Regions from separate parts of the Homo sapiens genome. Here region 1 is linked to region 2. The links come from fine-mapping of genetic effects on plasma protein levels. Region 2 holds a variant in brackets. A gene starts in the other region. All regions are shown on their forward strands.

Region 1 (3,009 bases), not on the chromosome of region 2:
TGGCTGAGGAACCAAGGTAAGGATGGAAGACTGCTCTAAGCCAGGGGCTGGGGAAACCTCCCCGCCTCCATTTTTACTCTTCTCCAACCCACTTCTCTCCCAGCAGCCGAATGAATCTTTCTAGAAGCTGATAGTAACCACTCCCTGACTTAACATCTGTCAATACAGGGCTCTCAAGGCTCACTCCTTCAGGACAAGCCCCTGCCTTGACAACTTCATGGGTCGTGGTCTCCCCTTATCCCCACCCCAGCGCTCTCTACTCTGTTCTCTGAACCAGCCACCCCCAAGTTCCAACAGTTCTCAGAGAGAGTCAGACCCTTCCTGGACACTTCCTACGTAAAAGGGATTGAGAGGAGCAAACGAATGACTATCTGTACTGTTGCCCAAATACACTGCACACCAGAACTCCCCTCTCTTTCCCTCTTAGAGACATTAGGGCTCAAAGGGTTGTATCCTTATATAACCCCTTTCTACAACCATAGAAGAGGCTGCAGGGAGGCTGAAGTGACATGTCCAGGTTCACAGTTGAATTAGAACCAGGCTCCACACCACTGATTTGAAACCCTGGAGTCCTGATAGTGCTGTCAATCTGAAAGGGACATCAGGTATGGCCTAACTCAGCCCTCTCGGTGCACAGGTGCAGATACCCAGGGCTTCCCAGCCTGCCATCTCCCTGAACCTTCATTTATCAGTCCCCAGTCAAACGCACCTCCTCCTCCTCATCAGGTGTGCCAGGCTCACTCCTGTGGCCGCAGGAGGCCACACGCGGGCCCCGGGGTCATGGGGGCGACCGGCAGCTGCGCGCCCCAGCTGGCCGCCCAGCCCCACCTCCTGTTTGCCGCCCGAGCCGGGAAGGGGCGCCGCTCCCCGGGACCACACTCACTTGGCGCCCGCGGCCTGGAAGAGGTCGGCCCACTCCTCCGGGTGGAAGAAGCGCGCAGTGAACTGCGGTCCGAAGTCGGCGTAGCTGAAGCCGGGCGGGTAGTTGTCGCGCATGAAGCGCTGGTACTGCGGCCGCCCCTCGCCCTGCCAGTGCCACCAGAACCACTCGCTGCCCCAGGCGGGCACCGAGAACACGCCCCAGTGGATGAACACCCCGAACTTGGCTTCGTCGAACCAGGCCGGCAGCGGCCGAGAATCCAGGCTCGGCCAGTCTGGGGTGTAGCGGCGCGGAGGCTGGGCCCGACGCACCGACTCGGCCGCTCCGAGGAAGAGCAGCAGCAGCAACAGCGCGGGACCCGCCGGCCGCGACCTCATCCCCGGAGCCCGCATCGCTACCCCTCAGCGACGCGGCCCACTCTTAACGCGCAGGTGCCCGCGGGCGGCTCCGCCCACTCTGACTAACGATTGGCCCGGAAGGAAAAAGGGGTGGGACAACCTGGACAGGTTGGCCCGAGTCGCTTCCTCCTCGGGTCGGAGGAGCGCCCTCTGGTGCTCAAGAAGGGAAAGACGCAGGGAGGCGTTGACAGCGCTTCGCTGAAGGACGAATAAAAACCTTGAAAAGGGACTTAACTGCGAGGTTAAATCGTGGAGGTGAGCAAGGCCCAGTGTGTGCGGAGAACTCACATTTAAGAAGGAGTCCATTGAGCCGGACGCAGTGGCTCACGCCTGTAATCCTAACACTTTCGGAAGTCGAGGCGGGAGGATCGCTCTGAGCCCACAAGTTGGAGACTAGCCTGTCTCTATAAAAAATAAACAAAATGAGCCTGGCGTAGTGGTGCACGTCTGGAGTCCCAGCTACTCGAGAGGCTGAGGTGGGAGGTTCGGGATCGCTTGAGCCCGGGAAGTCTGGGCTGCAGTGAACCGAACCGTGATCACGCCTCTGGGAGTAGTCCATTTTGCCGCAGCAATCCTGCAGGGGTAGGCTGAAGTGAGATCACGAGTTTTATTTAGTGATCACTTGGGAGCCATAGGGGGCTTTTGAGTTGTCCTGTAGCACAAGGCTGGAGGAGGAGATAACAGACCGGAAGGGTATCTAACAGCCCTGACAGAAATAAGGAGGTAGAGGGATGATGGGAAGAAACGTTATGAAAGGAGAGGAAAGAGAAAACTGGGTACTGAAAGAGGGAGAGCGGGCAGGACCGTTTCATCTGTCTGGTATTTACTGAGCTTTCTTTGGGAATTCCGAGGCATTTCAAATAGCTTAGTTTGTACCGAGATACCGCCACTGCACTCCAGCCCCTGGGCGACAGAGCCAGACCAAGGAAGAAAGAAAGGAAGGAAGGAAGGAAGGAAGGAGGAAGGAAGGAAGGAAGGAGGAAGTGGAGAGCCAAGAGGACCCAGGATTGCCTGGCAGGGAAGTTCCCCAGTTCCTCTGCAATTTGCACATGCTGCACATACTCAAACGGGAGGTGAGGCCATTAGCGAGGGAAATACGGAAGTCAGAAGTCTCTGAACAGACAAGGTGGCTCACGCCTGTAATCCCAGCACTTTGGGAGGCCGAGGTGGGCAGATCACCTGAGGTCGGGAGTTTGAGACCAGCCTGGCCAACATGGTGAAACCCCATCTCTACTAAAAATACAAAAATTAGCCGGGCATGGGGTGCGCCTGTAATCCCAGCTACTCAGGAGGCTGAGGCAGGAGAATTGCTTGAACTCGGGAGGTGGAGGTTACAGTGAGCCGAGATCGCACCACTGCACTCCAGCCTGGGCGACAGAGTGAGACTCGGTCTCAAAAAAAAAAAAAAAAAAAAAGAAAAAGAAAAGGAAGAAGAAGTCTCATGACTCCACGTAGCACACTCAGTTCCCACATGCCAGTGAGAGAATGGCAGCACATCAGAGTTGGGACTTTGAAGATCCTAGGCACCATCCTCTTCCCTACCCTTCCCATTGTACCGAGGAGGGAACTGAAGCCCAGAGAGGGCTGGGGGGCTGCCCAAGATCATGCAGCTAGTTTGAGTCAGAGGTGGGACTAGAATACGTGTCTCCAGGTGCAAAATCTATGCCTTTGTTCATGCTGCTTCTTTCTTGCACCTCATGAGAAGTCAGAGCCTATGTTGACAGAACCCAG
Region 2 (2,500 bases):
ACCATCTTCCCTTGTCTCCCAGAACCATTCCAGGCCTGGACGGGCTTCTACACGTCCCGCAGCTCACTGAAGGGGCTGGCCCGGCGAGCCAGCGCCTTGTTGTATGCCGGGGAGTCCATGTTCACACGCTACCTGTGGCCGGCCCCCCGTGGGCATCTGGACCCCACCTGGGCCCTGCAGCAGCTCCAGCAGCTTCGCTGGGCCGTCTCCGAGGTAACACCACATTTAGCCACAGTGGCAGGATTGGAACCTCCCATGCTGCGCACCTCCCCTCCCTTGTCCTAGCCAATCCTTCCAGCCCTGGGGCACTAGAGGCCCCACTTTACAGAGGGGAAACTGAGGTTCCCTTTGGTTACAAGGCCAGTGCATGGTGAACCCAGGCCAAGGCTGAGACCACAGCCTGATCCATCCAGCTGGTGGCCTCATTAAGCTTTGTAGCAGTTTAGCAAAAGGGATAAAGGACAAGGTGGAGTGGCATTTGTGTCCGACAGCCCTGCCTGCATCCATATCTCGGCTCAGCTGTGTGATGTCAGGCACATGATTCCCACACCCACCCAAGACCTAATTCCCTCCTGTACAATGAGAACAACGAGCTTGCCCAGGAGGACGGTGGGGCAATTGGATGTGCTGGTGTGCACAGCCTGCTTGGTGCAGTGGCTGCTGAATAGCCAGTTCATGAGTTTCCGTCTCCACCCATCCCCTACTGTACTGATGGGAAAACAGACCCAAGACAGCCTGTAACTTGTCCTCAGTCACCTATCCAAAAAAGGGTCACACCAGCCATGACACTGTAACAGTTCCCCAAAAGGAGCTGCTGGCAGAACATGTCATTATGTTGTGGGAGAAATGAGGTGACTTCAGGGTCCTTCAGAGCAGGGGGTCCAGAGATGGGGGACAATGAGTTCCCACAAGGGCAGGAAAAGTTGGGCGAGCTCCTCAGCTTCTCTTGGCCTCAGTTCCTCCTTCTGTAAAATGGCGGGGACTGCCCCCTTCTCCACTGGCACCTGGCAAGCCAGAATGAGAGCCAGCGCCTAGTAGGTGCCTTGTAGGTGCTTTGCAGAGTCAGGTCCTGATCCTGTTCTTCCTCCCCTCTGGGGGTTGCTGCAGGTC[C/A]AGCACCATGATGCCATCACTGGGACTGAGTCCCCCAAGGTGAGAGACATGTACGCAACGCACCTGGCCTCGGGGATGCTGGGCATGCGCAAGCTGATGGCCTCCATCGTCCTAGATGAGCTCCAGCCCCAGGCACCCATGGCGGCCAGCTCCGGTGAGCAGGGCCCTGCAGGGAGGCTGTGGCCCCTTTATGAAGGGAGAGCCTGAGGAGGTCAGGGGAGGGGCTCAACGACCCCAGCTTCAGACTCTGAGTCCACATCACCCATATCGCCCTTCCCCATGGTGAGAGCTCGGACAGGTGGCTTCAGTCCTCCCAGCCTCTGTTTGCTCATCCGTGCAATGAGGAAGGGTTGCTGATGTTACAAGAAGAGCCAGAAATAGCAGCTAACATGTTTTGAGCATTTACTAAGCTCAAAATACCCTTCATGCAGTATTGAATTTAATGCCTCACAAAATCTGTACAAAATAGGAATGGTTACTGTCCTCATTTTACAGCCGAGGAAACGGACTCAAGTTATATGCTAGCCCAGGGCCACTCGGGTAGGAAGGAGCAGAGCAGGGATTGAACCTGAACACGGTGCTGCCCAGCCTTGGCAGAGAGTACGCCGGTGTCCTCAGGGGCCCGGTCCCTTCCTGGCTCCTGGCACTCCCTCCCGAACTCCACTTGGCTGACATCACAGCAGGGCAGCCGTGGGACCAGCCTCTTTGACTGTGAGTTTTCCCACGTGTAGAGTGACTGATCACATGCCAGTGTGCCTGGGACTGAGGGGTTTCCAAACTGGGAAGATCCTGGACAAATGAAGACAGGTTGGCGGCCCTCCGCCCGCATGAGACTTTTGTGTGCATAGGCCGCCAGGTCCCACCCACAGCCTGCACCTGGTCATCTTGCACTTCCTTCTTGTTTTTTGTTTTTTGAGACAGGGTCTCGCTGTGTCACCTAGGCTGGAGTGCAGTGGTGCCAGTCATAGGTCACTGCTGCCTTAGACTCCTGGGCTTGAGCGATCCTCCTGCCTCAGCCTCCCAAGTAGCTGGGACTACAGGCATGCACTACCACACCTGGCTTATTGTTTTATTTTTATTTTTTTTGGAGAGACAGGGTCTCACCATGTTGCCAGGATGGTCTCCTAACTCCTGGGCTCAAGTGGTCCTCCCACCTTGGTCTGTCAAAATGCTGCTATCTGGCCAGGCATGGTGGCTCACACCTGTAATCCCAGCACTTTGGGAGGCCGAGGCGGGTGGATTACGAGGTCAGGAGATCGAGACCATCCTGGCTAACACGGTGAAAACCTGTCTCTACTAAAAATACCAAAAAAATGAGCCGGGTGTGGTGGCGGGCGCCTGTAGTCCCAGCTACTCAGGGGCTGAGGCAGGAGAATGGCGTGAACCCAGG

Which allele goes with the higher level. Positions count from the first base shown, and alleles are read on the strand shown. Strength reflects both the effect of a copy and how common the allele is.
As copies of C replace A in region 2, the plasma level of the protein whose gene starts at base 1,276 in region 1 goes down (weak association).

What was found. PIP is the posterior inclusion probability: the model's chance that the variant is causal. Protein levels are from antibody-based Olink assays in UK Biobank. Linkage for the fine-mapping came from a reference panel and not from the study's own genotypes, which makes the PIPs less certain.
Region 1: it holds the start of FUCA1, and the variant in region 2 is fine-mapped to the plasma level of the FUCA1 protein (UK Biobank, PIP above 0.99).

The regions. Positions count from the first base shown.
Region 1 is chr1:23,867,015-23,870,023 of GRCh38, forward strand. It overlaps FUCA1 (alpha-L-fucosidase 1), which reads right to left and starts at 1,276. Exons shown (of 8, transcript NM_000147.5): 1 at 884-1,276. The coding sequence starts at 1,272. RefSeq lists a silencer at 688-907.
Region 2 is chr4:6,597,091-6,599,590 of GRCh38, forward strand. It overlaps MAN2B2 (mannosidase alpha class 2B member 2), which reads left to right. Exons shown (of 19, transcript NM_015274.3): 8 at 23-213; 9 at 1,108-1,264. Among named protein-coding and RNA genes, the nearest start is that of MAN2B2, 23 kb to the left of the region's middle. The variant C/A (reference allele first, on the strand shown) is at 1,111.